2 separate regions of the Homo sapiens genome follow, and region 1 is linked to region 2. Evidence: fine-mapped expression QTL. A gene starts in region 2. The other region holds a variant in brackets. All regions are shown on one strand. Distances are between the middles of the regions.

Region 1 (5,378 bases), 39 kb before region 2:
ACTTGTTCCAAGTCACACAGCTAAGTTGCAGAGCTAGGACCTCAGCCCACTAGTGCTAACTCTAAGGCCAGCATCCTTTCTTACTTTTTTTTTTTTTTGAGATGGAGTCTCGCTCTTGTCACCAGGCTAGAGTGCAGTGGTGTGATCTCGGCTCACTGCAACCTCCGCCTCCTGGGTTGGAGCGATTCTCCTGCCTCAGCCTCCTGAGTAGCTGGGATTACAGGCACCTGCCACCAGGCCGGGCTAATTTTTATACTTTTAGTAGAGACGGGGTTTCACCATGTTGGCTAGGCTAGTCTTGAACTCTGACCTCAGGTGATCCATCCGCCTTGGCCTCCCAAAGTGCTGGGATTACAGGTGTGAGCCACTGTGCCCTTAAGGCCAGTATACTTTATATTGCATTATAACTGCCCAATATTAGTATTTAGGAATATTAATGAGAAGAGATCAAATCATTGCAAAACCAAAAGCATGTTCCCCTAGTTGTCTAATGTTGTTAAATATACTCTTTAGGCTATGAAAATGGTGGTGCTGAATAACCAGTCTCCTCCTCCACCATCATACATCAAACAAAATTTAGTTCATGGCCGGGCACAGTGCCTCACACCTGTAATCCCAGCACTTTGGGAGGCTGAGGTGGATAGATCACCTGAGGTCAGGAGTTCAAGACCAGCCTGACCAATATGGTAAAACCCCGTCTCTACTAAAAATACAAAAACTAGCTGGGCGTGGTGGCATGCGCTTGTAATCTCAGCTACTCAGGAGGCTGAGACAATAAAATTGCTTGAACCCAGGAGGCGGAGGTTGCAGTGTGCCGAGATCGCGCCACTGCATTCTAGAGTAGGTGACAGAGTGAAACTCTGTCTCAAAAATAAAATAAAATAAATTTAGTTCATGAACATATTGATGAGTGTGGGATACTGTTATCCATCTGGAATAATACTGGTAATAGGAGATGCAGTGCCCGCCATTTAGTTTTGCCTACAGTTTCTTTCTTTCTTTTTTTTTTTTGAGATAGAGTCTAGCTCTATCGCCAGGCTGGAGTGCGGTGGTGCGATCTCGGCTCACTGCAACCTCTGGCTCCCTGGTTTAAGCCATTCTCCTGCCTCAGCTTCCCGAGTAGCTGGGATTACAGGCACGTGCCACCACGCCCAGCTAATTTTTGTATTTTTAGTAGAGACGGGGTTTCACCATGTTGGCCAGGATGGTCTCAATCTCCTGACCTTGTGATCCGCCTGCCTTGGCCTCCCAAAGTGCTGGGATTACAGGCGTGAGCCACTGTGCCCGGCCGCCTATAGTTTCTTAAATGCCGATGGCCTTTCATGAACTCACTCAGCATCCATGATCCACCATGCCCACTGCAGACAGCGAGCAGCTTCCTGTTGGCCCCACCTATCCGGTGGACTCTTGTGGTCTCAGGTGGGGCCAACCTTTTCTGTGCAGTCTACCCAACTCTGGACTTGAAAACGACTTGTAGCTGGGGTGTGGTGATGTGTACCTGCAGTCCCAGCTACTTGGGAGGCTGACGAAGGAGGATCGCTTTGAGTCCAGGAGTCTGAGACCAGCCTGGGCAACATAGAGAGTGCTCTACAAAAAAAAAAAAAAGTTAAAAATAAATAAAAAATAAAATAGAAAGGATGACACTTTTGCTTAGTGGCTAAATAGGCATCAGGACACATGGCTCAGAGGCTTGACAAATCAGGGGCAAAATCACCAACTGCTCAGTTTCCATTTAACAAGTATGTTCTGAGCAAACATGGCTCCCGCACACAAGGACTTTAAGATGATAAGAAGGAACATGTCAGTTAAATAGCAATGTAAGGCAGTACAGTATTATAGTATATAGTAGGCTGGGTGCAGTGGCTCATGCCTTGTAATCCCAGCAGTTTGGGAAGCTGAGGTGGTCACCTGAGGTCAGGAGTTTGAGACCAGCCTGGCCAACATGGTGAAACCCCGTCTCTAGTAAAAATACAAAAATTAGCTGGGCGTGGTGGCAGGTGCCTGTAACCGCAGCTACTTGGGAAGCTGAGGCAGGAGAATCGTTTGAACCCAGGAGGTGGAGGTTGCAGTGAGCCGAGATCGCGCCACCGCACTCCAGCCTGGGTGACAGAGTGAGACTCTGTCTCAAGAAAAAAAAAAAAATACACACACACACACACACAC[G/ACG]TGTATATGTAAATACACACACACACACACACACACACACACACACACACACATATATATATATATATATATATATATATGGTATATGGTAGTTACTTAGCTTCCTTGTCCTTTAGTTTCCTCAGGTGTAAAATGGAGTAATATGAATAGTACCTACCTCATAAAGTTGTTGTGATTAAATGAGATAATGGCTATAATTTTCACTGTGCCTAACACATAGTAAGGCACTTAAAAAGAATCTGTGGCCAGGAGCAGTGGCTCACACCTGTAATCCCAGCCCTTTGAGGGGCTGAGGTGGATGGATTGCTTGAACCCAGGAGTTTGAGACCAGCCTGGGTGACACGGTGAAAACCCCATCTCTACAAAAAAATAAAATAAAATAAAAAATTAGATCTGCACAGGGTGTGTGCCTGTAGTCCCAGCTGCTGGGGAGGCTGAGGTGGGACGATTAAGGAATCCTCAGGCCCAGGAGATGGAAATGTAGTGAGTCGAAATCGAGACACTGCACTCTAGCTTGGGTGAAGGGAGTGAAACCCTGTCTCAAGAAAAAAAAAAAACGGGCCAGGCGCGGTGGCTCATGCGTGTAATCCCAGCACTTTGGGAGGCCAAGGCGGGTGGATCAATGAGGTCAGGAGTTCGAGACCAGCCTGACCAACATGGTGAAACCCCATCTCTACTAAAAATACAAAAATTAGGCCGGGCATGGTGGCTCACTACTGTAATCCCAGTCTTTGGGAGGCTGAGGCAGGTAGATCACCTGAGGTCAGGAGTTTGAGGCCAGCCTGACCAACATGAAGAAACCCTGTCTCTACTAAAAATACAAAATTAGCTGGGCATGGTGGCGCATGCTTGTAATCACAGCTACTCAGCAGGCTGAGGCAGGAGAATCGCTTGAACTCAGAAGGTGGAGGTTGCAGTGAGCCGAGATCATGCCATTGTACTGCAGCCTGGGCAACAAGAGCAAAACTCCGTCTACCAAAAAAAAAAAAATTAGCTGGGCGTGGTTGCAGGCACCTGTAATCTCAGCTACTAGGGAGGCTGAAGCGGGAGAATCGCTTGAACCCAGGAGGCAGAGATTGCAGTGAGCCAAGATCATGCCATTGCACTCCAGCCTGGGCGACAGAGGGAGACTTCGTCCAAAAAAAAAGAAAAAAAAATTAGCCAGGAGTGGTGGCACATGCCTGTAGTCCCAGCTACTTGGGAGGCTGAGGCATGAGAATTACTTGAACCCTTGAGGCAGAGGTTCTGGTGAGCAGAGATTGCACCACTGCACCCCTGGCTGGGAGACACAGCAAGTCACACACGCGCGCGCGCGCGCACACACACACACACACACACACACACACACACACACACACACAGAAAAAAGAAAAAGAAAAAAAGAGTTGTCTGCGAAGAAAAATTAGAAAATGGAATTCTAGTTAAGCAAATCCTTAACTAGAGAAAACACATGAAAGTCTGTTCATCTCCCAGGGAAATAACTGCTTGGTTTAGTCATAATATTTGACAACTATTGTTTGTCTTTGCAGAGTTCAGCACATCTTGGGGAATCTTTGTATGCAGCTTGTTTTGGGTATTCCCTTGGAAATGGTCCACAAAGGCCTCCGTGTGGGGCTGGTGTACCTGGCAGGAGTGATTGCAGGTCAGTGTTCTGAGGTAACACAGAATCAATACCTCTGGGCTCTTAGGATTAAAAGCAAATGAAATACACACTTATAGTAGGCTTCTTTAAGTCAAGGTTTACTGCACTCCTAATATGTGCTCGGGAACACATTAAGCCTTAGAGATCATTGAATTAGAGATACTATCAGCAAGCAAAGACAAGTCATTGTGCCTGTCCTCAGGTATCTCACACTCAAGACAGGGTTTTGCATAATTGAAATTGCAAGTATGCCTGGCGCTCCTGCCTGTAATCCCAGCACTTTGGGAGGCTGATGTGGGTAGATCACACGAGGCCAGGAGTTCGAGACCAGCCTGGCCAATATGGTGAAACCCTCTCTCCACCAAAAATACAAAAATTAGCTGGGGGTGGTGGCTCACCCCTATAATCCCAGCTACTCAGGGGGCTGAGGCACCAGAATCACTTGAACCTAGGGGGCGGAGATTGCAGTGAGCCAAGATTGTGCCACTGCACTCCACACTCTAGCCTGGGCAACAGAGCGAGACTCTGTCTCAAACAAACAAACAAACAAAAAAAAAAAAAAAAAAAAGAAAAGGAATAAAGAAAACTGCAAGTAGTTTGGTGTACAGGTACGTATTTGAGTAAAGGTCTAAAGCCAGATCATGGAGGCCCTTATATGTCAGACTACTGATTTTGAGAAGTAACATGATCAGATTTGCATTTAAGAAAGACAACTTTAAGAGAATGTAGAGAATAACCAAAGGGGCTCTAAGACTGGGTAGGTAAAAGTAGCATACGTCAGTGATCCCTAAATCTGGGTGTGCCTAAGATGATCCATTATGGCATGGGAAGAAAATATTAGAACTCCCATCCATCCATTTGTTTATTTATTGGAAACATTTTTTTAAAAAATTAAACTTTTAATTTTGCGATAATTGTAGATTTACATGCAGTTGTTAGAAATAATGCCTAGAGGTCTTATGTACCCTTTAAACCAGCGATCCCCAATGGTGACATCTTGCAAAACATTAGTACTGTATCACAACTAGGATATCCACGTTGATATAGTCAGGGTACAAAACATTTTCAAACCATATGGATCCCTTATGATGCCTTTTTATAGCTATACCATCTTCTGTCCCACCCTCCTTTACCTCTGGCAACCACTAACCTGTTCTCCATTTCTATAATTTTGTCATTTGAAGAATATTATATAAATGGAATAATCCGGTATATACCCTTGTGGGATTGATTTTCTTCACTCAGCATAATTCTCCGGGGATTCATCTAGGTTGTTGCATGTGTCAATAGTTTATTCCTTTTTATTGCCCAGTATTCATTCCATAAAATGGATATAGCACTGCTTGTTTAACCATTCACTCATTGAAGGTTATCTGAGTTGTTTCAGTTTTTGGCTATTAGGAATAACACTACTCCAAACACTTGTGTATATGTTTTTATGAATATAAGTATGGGGTTTTGTGAACAGAGTTTTCAGTTTTCTAGGATAAATGTCCAAAGGCACAGTTGTTGGAACATATGATAGTGGCATATTTTATTTTTTAATTTAATTTAATTTAATTCATTAATTTAT
Region 2 (5,378 bases):
AAGATCTGGCTCACCATCCTGTTCATATTTCGAATGCTTGTTCTGGGTGTAGCAGCTGAAGATGTCTGGAATGATGAGCAGTCTGGCTTCATCTGCAATACAGAACAACCAGGCTGCAGAAATGTATGCTACGACCAGGCCTTTCCTATCTCCCTCATTAGATACTGGGTTCTGCAGGTGATATTTGTGTCTTCACCATCCCTGGTCTACATGGGCCATGCATTGTACCGACTGAGAGTTCTTGAGGAAGAGAGGCAAAGGATGAAAGCTCAGTTAAGAGTAGAACTGGAGGAGGTAGAGTTTGAAATGCCTAGGGATCGGAGGAGATTGGAGCAAGAGCTTTGTCAGCTGGAGAAAAGGAAACTAAATAAAGCTCCACTCAGAGGAACCTTGCTTTGCACTTATGTGATACACATTTTCACTCGCTCTGTGGTTGAAGTTGGATTCATGATTGGACAGTACCTTTTATATGGATTTCACTTAGAGCCGCTATTTAAGTGCCATGGCCACCCGTGTCCAAATATAATCGACTGTTTTGTCTCAAGACCAACAGAAAAGACAATATTCCTATTATTTATGCAATCTATAGCCACTATTTCACTTTTCTTAAACATTCTTGAAATTTTCCACCTAGGTTTTAAAAAGATTAAAAGAGGGCTTTGGGGAAAATACAAGTTGAAGAAGGAACATAATGAATTCCATGCAAACAAGGCAAAACAAAATGTAGCCAAATACCAGAGCACATCTGCAAATTCACTGAAGCGACTCCCTTCTGCCCCTGATTATAATCTGTTAGTGGAAAAGCAAACACACACTGCAGTGTACCCTAGTTTAAATTCATCTTCTGTATTCCAGCCAAATCCTGACAATCATAGTGTAAATGATGAGAAATGCATTTTGGATGAACAGGAAACTGTACTTTCTAATGAGATTTCCACACTTAGTACTAGTTGTAGTCATTTTCAACACATCAGTTCAAACAATAACAAAGACACTCATAAAATATTTGGAAAAGAACTTAATGGTAACCAGTTAATGGAAAAAAGAGAAACTGAAGGCAAAGACAGCAAAAGGAACTACTACTCTAGAGGTCACCGTTCTATTCCAGGTGTTGCTATAGATGGAGAGAACAACATGAGGCAGTCACCCCAAACAGTTTTCTCCTTGCCAGCTAACTGCGATTGGAAACCGCGGTGGCTTAGAGCTACATGGGGTTCCTCTACAGAACATGAAAACCGGGGGTCACCTCCTAAAGGTAACCTCAAGGGCCAGTTCAGAAAGGGCACAGTCAGAACCCTTCCTCCTTCACAAGGAGATTCTCAATCACTTGACATTCCAAACACTGCTGATTCTTTGGGAGGGCTGTCCTTTGAGCCAGGGTTGGTCAGAACCTGTAATAATCCTGTTTGTCCTCCAAATCACGTAGTGTCCCTAACGAACAATCTCATTGGTAGGCGGGTTCCCACAGATCTTCAGATCTAAACAGCGGTTGGCTTTTAGACATTATATATATTATCAGAGAAGTAGCCTAGTGGTCGTGGGGCACAGAAAAAATAGATAGGGGCAGCTCTAAAGACCAGCTGTTAAGACAGACAACTGCAAACTCATTTAAGCAAGAGAAAAACAGCTCTAATTCGAGATTGTGAAGCAACACTTCTAAATTCAAAGACATAGAGTTGTCAAATCAGGATTTTTTTTTTTTTAAATGATATCCTTTCGAATGTAACTGATTTTGGGAAAATCACATGTTCAGAATTGAGGCTAAATGGTTTGATCAGGTTTTCTCTTTGAAGAGACCACAGCCTTAGGAAATGGTTCTTGATCTATACAATTCCACCTTGGACACTGGGTTAATTCTGTTTGCCCCTGGAACACAATCACGTAAGTTTCCTTCTAGACTGGCATCCTGATGTGTCTTGAGTATAATCACATGTTGCTACCTAGTAAATAAAATCTTAAGAAGATCCGTGGCTTTCCTTCACCAGTTCATAGCATCGTGATTCATTGCCCGGATTGGACTCGACTCTACTCACTGGACATCTAACCACTCCACTTAATTAACAATACCCACCCTACAGGGGTGTTGTAAGGATTAAAATTTAAAATACCCGTGTTTTCTACAGTGCCTGGCTCAAAAGCTACTGCAAGCTCGTTACTGCTCATCCTCCAGAGGCCCACATCAAGTCAGCCACGACTCAAGGAGACTCCAAAGATAAAAGCTGAAGCCAAAATATATGATTCTAAACACCCTCCTCGGCTACTGCAAAGCACTGTGAGCACTTTCTCAGGACGAGAGCCAAGAAGCCCAGCACCTATGGGTCACCACAGTTTCCGAGGTCCCAGATGAAAAAGATGCGCTCGCTACCACCGTGCGGCGGTCCTTTCTCTCGCAATAGTCTCAATGCTCCCGGGCCCTGCCTCCGGACGCCAGGACAGAGGTACCAAAATCTCACCTCCTGCAAAGAAACCTAATTGCTACGGGGGCCGGAAGAGGAAGAGGTGCGGCTCCGACAGCCAGAGGGGCGGGCATACGCAGCCTCCCTCGGCTCAGCCTGCTACTGGGGATGCAGAGCGTCCTGGTCGCCATGAAAACAGGCCACACCTCGGCGATCCCGGCCGGTGGTTTGCAAGTGCGCAGGCGCGCGCCCCCTTCCGCGCATGAGCAGTGCTGCTCCCAACCCGCCAGTCGCGGTCTCCGGCGCCAGCTACGCCGCTGCCGCTGTCACTATGGCCCATTACAAAGTGAGGGGGGCGCGGCGTGGCTGGGGGCATGCGGGCGGTAGCAAGCCGCTGGTCGGCTCTGGGTGGGAGTGGGGTCGCGCGCGCAGGTTTGGGCGGGAGGGCCCCGAGGTAGTGAGGCGGAGGCGGGGTTGCCGGACTCCCAGCGCCTTCTTCCTGCTCGGCTCCCGGGCTCTGGCCACTGACCCCCGGTGTCTCTTCAGGCCGCCGACTCGAAGCGTGAGCAGTTCCGGAGGTACTTGGAGAAGTCGGGGGTGCTGGACACGCTGACCAAGGGTGAGCCTGGGCTAGGAGAGGGTACCTCGTGCCCTCGTCGTGCTCCCCGGCGCTGCCCCGTTCCCCAGCGGGCCGTAGCGTGGGGAAGGAGGGGAAACAGATGGGGCCCGTCCGGGGTCCAGCGAGGTGGGCCTCGGGGTTCAGCAGGGACCTGGCTGCTGGACGCCGCCCGGGTGGGGTAGCCTAGCTCCGCTACCCTTCTCCGCACCGGGAGTGAAACTCTTGCAGCTGTTGCAAAGTCTCTTCAACTTCCGTTGCTTTGCCTCCAGCAGCCGCAGTGGACATGTTTGCCAAGGACCTTCAGATCCCAATTCCTCCCACCTTACGGTTTTTATGGAGTCCTCAGAATCTTGTTAAGAAAGTTTCCCTCCAACAAAGAGCAACTGGAAAAATGACCGAATTTCCAAGTGGGCTATGAAGTAGCTGAGTGAGCCTAATCCCCAAAGTAGGAGATTCATAGCGAATTTGGCTGTGGCTTTTCAGCCCCCATTCCTTAGTCTGTCTGTGTCAATTCTTATTTTGTGTATATTTCATAAAGTAGAATTACAGCTTAAAGAGCTCGAGGGCATATCAAGGTGGTTACATTGTTTTCACTTTTTAAAATGAAAGCTTACTGTTAACGCTGTATCTCTTCATTCGTGGCTTCAAGATCTAAGTTAAGTAGATGAGTAAAGTGTTGGAAACAGGAGGATTTCAAGGGGTAGGGTACAGTTTACTTTATTGGCTTAGCACTAATTTGAATGCCTGCTATGTGTCACTCAACTCACTGGGATATTCAAGGGTGTAGAATGGAATTGTTCGCAGGGATGAGGACTTGGGTCATATGAAACTAGGAAGTTTGGGAAGTGGGAAATAAATTGGTAACTGCCCTTTGGACAGAAGCAAAGTTTAGAGGAAAATTCTAGGAGCATAACTCCTGGGTCTTAGAAGAAAGAAGGCTAGTAATTTTGAATTGCTACCTATTTGGGGTTCAGATAATAGTTTACCTCTTTGCAAATAAACTTCAGCAAGTCTTAAGGGACTACTCTGTGAAAGTACTGTGCTATGTTGTCTCTGAAAGTGTCACAGATGCTTTGAATGTCATTCCGTCTAAAAACTCCTTACGTTCATTTCTTTCATTTAATAATTTTACTCAGGTGTCTGTTCTGCACACTGGAGATAAGCAGGGGAGGATAAAAGTCTCGGCTCTCATAAGCTTATATCCTAGTTGAGGGAGAGAAATACATAAATAAATATGTAGTGTCAGCTAGTGGTAAGTGGTACAGATAAAAATACAGCAAAGTTAGGGATAAAGAGTAACAGGTGAGGCCAGGCACGTGGCTCATGCCTGTAATCTCAGCACTTTGGGAGGCTGAGGTGGGTGGACTGCTAGAGGCCAGGAGCTCAAGACCAGCCTGGGCAACATGGCAAAACTCCCATCTCTTAAAAAAAAAAAAAAATTGCTGGGCATGGTGTGTGCCTGTAATCTAGCTACTGTGGAGGCTGAGGTGAGAGAATCACCTGAGCCCAGGAGGTCAAGGCTGCAGTGAGTTGTGATTGTGCCACTGGGCAACAGTGACACTCTGTCTCCAAAAAAAAAAAAAAAAAAAAGTGACAGGTGGGATGTGTGTGTCATTTTATATAGGGTGATGGGGGGAAGGCCTTTCTTAAGAAGTAATTTTTGACCAGAAACCTGAAAGAAACAGAGTTTCAGGAAGTCTAAGGAGGCCAGAGTGGTTGGATGGAGCAAGTGAAAGACTGAATGGTAAAAGGCAGAAAAATGACAGTTGTAGGCGGTAACTGACTACACAGAAGATGTTGCCCAGGCTGGAGTGCAGCGGCATGATCTCGGCTCACTGCAACCTCCACCTCCGGGTTCAAGCGATTGTGTTGCCTCAGCCTTCCAAGTAGCTGGGATTACAGGCATGTGCCACCATGCTTAGCTAATTTTTTGTATTTTTAGTAGAGAGGCGGTTTCACCACATGGGCCAGGCTGGTCTTGAACTCCTTACCTCAGGTGATCCGCTCACCTCAGCCCCGCAGAGTGCTGGGATTACAGGTGTGAGCCACCGCCCTCCACTAGAATTTAACCTCTCAATCTCCTTAGATTTCCAGGCTCCTAAATAACATCAGCCAACACAGTATTGATGTGATTTATTAAAAATTTGATTTTCAGCTCCAAACATAGGTGCTTTACACAATTCTATTTGTTTTTTTTTTTTTTTTTTTTTTTTTTTTTGAGACGGAGTCTCGCTCTGTCGCCCAGGCCGGACTGCGGACTGCAGTGGCGCAATCTCGGCTCACTGCAAGCTCCGCTTCCCGGGTTCACGCCATTCTCCTGCCTCAGCCTCCCGAGTAGCTGGGACTACAGGCGCCCGCCACCG

The links.
Region 1: its variant is fine-mapped to the expression of MYCBP in whole blood (INTERVAL, PIP 0.96).

What each region holds. Positions count from the first base shown.
Region 1 is chr1:38,909,749-38,915,126 of GRCh38, reverse strand. RHBDL2 (rhomboid like 2) reads left to right here. Exons shown (of 8, transcript NM_017821.5): 4 at 3,693-3,805. LOC105378662 (a long non-coding RNA gene) reads right to left here and starts at 1,587. Exons shown (of 2, transcript XR_001737994.2): 1 at 1,499-1,587. The variant G/ACG (reference allele first, on the strand shown) is at 2,164.
Region 2 is chr1:38,870,655-38,876,032 of GRCh38, reverse strand. It overlaps MYCBP (MYC binding protein), which reads left to right and starts at 2,685. Exons shown (of 5, transcript NM_012333.5): 1 at 2,685-2,742; 2 at 2,943-3,015. The coding sequence starts at 2,728. It overlaps GJA9 (gap junction protein alpha 9), which reads left to right. Exons shown (of 2, transcript NM_030772.5): 2 at 1-1,964. The coding sequence ends at 1,482. It overlaps RRAGC-DT (RRAGC divergent transcript), which reads right to left. Exons shown (of 2, transcript NR_186075.1): 2 at 1-92. The region is part of intron 1 of GJA9-MYCBP (GJA9-MYCBP readthrough); the gene reads left to right. RefSeq lists an enhancer at 3,129-3,651.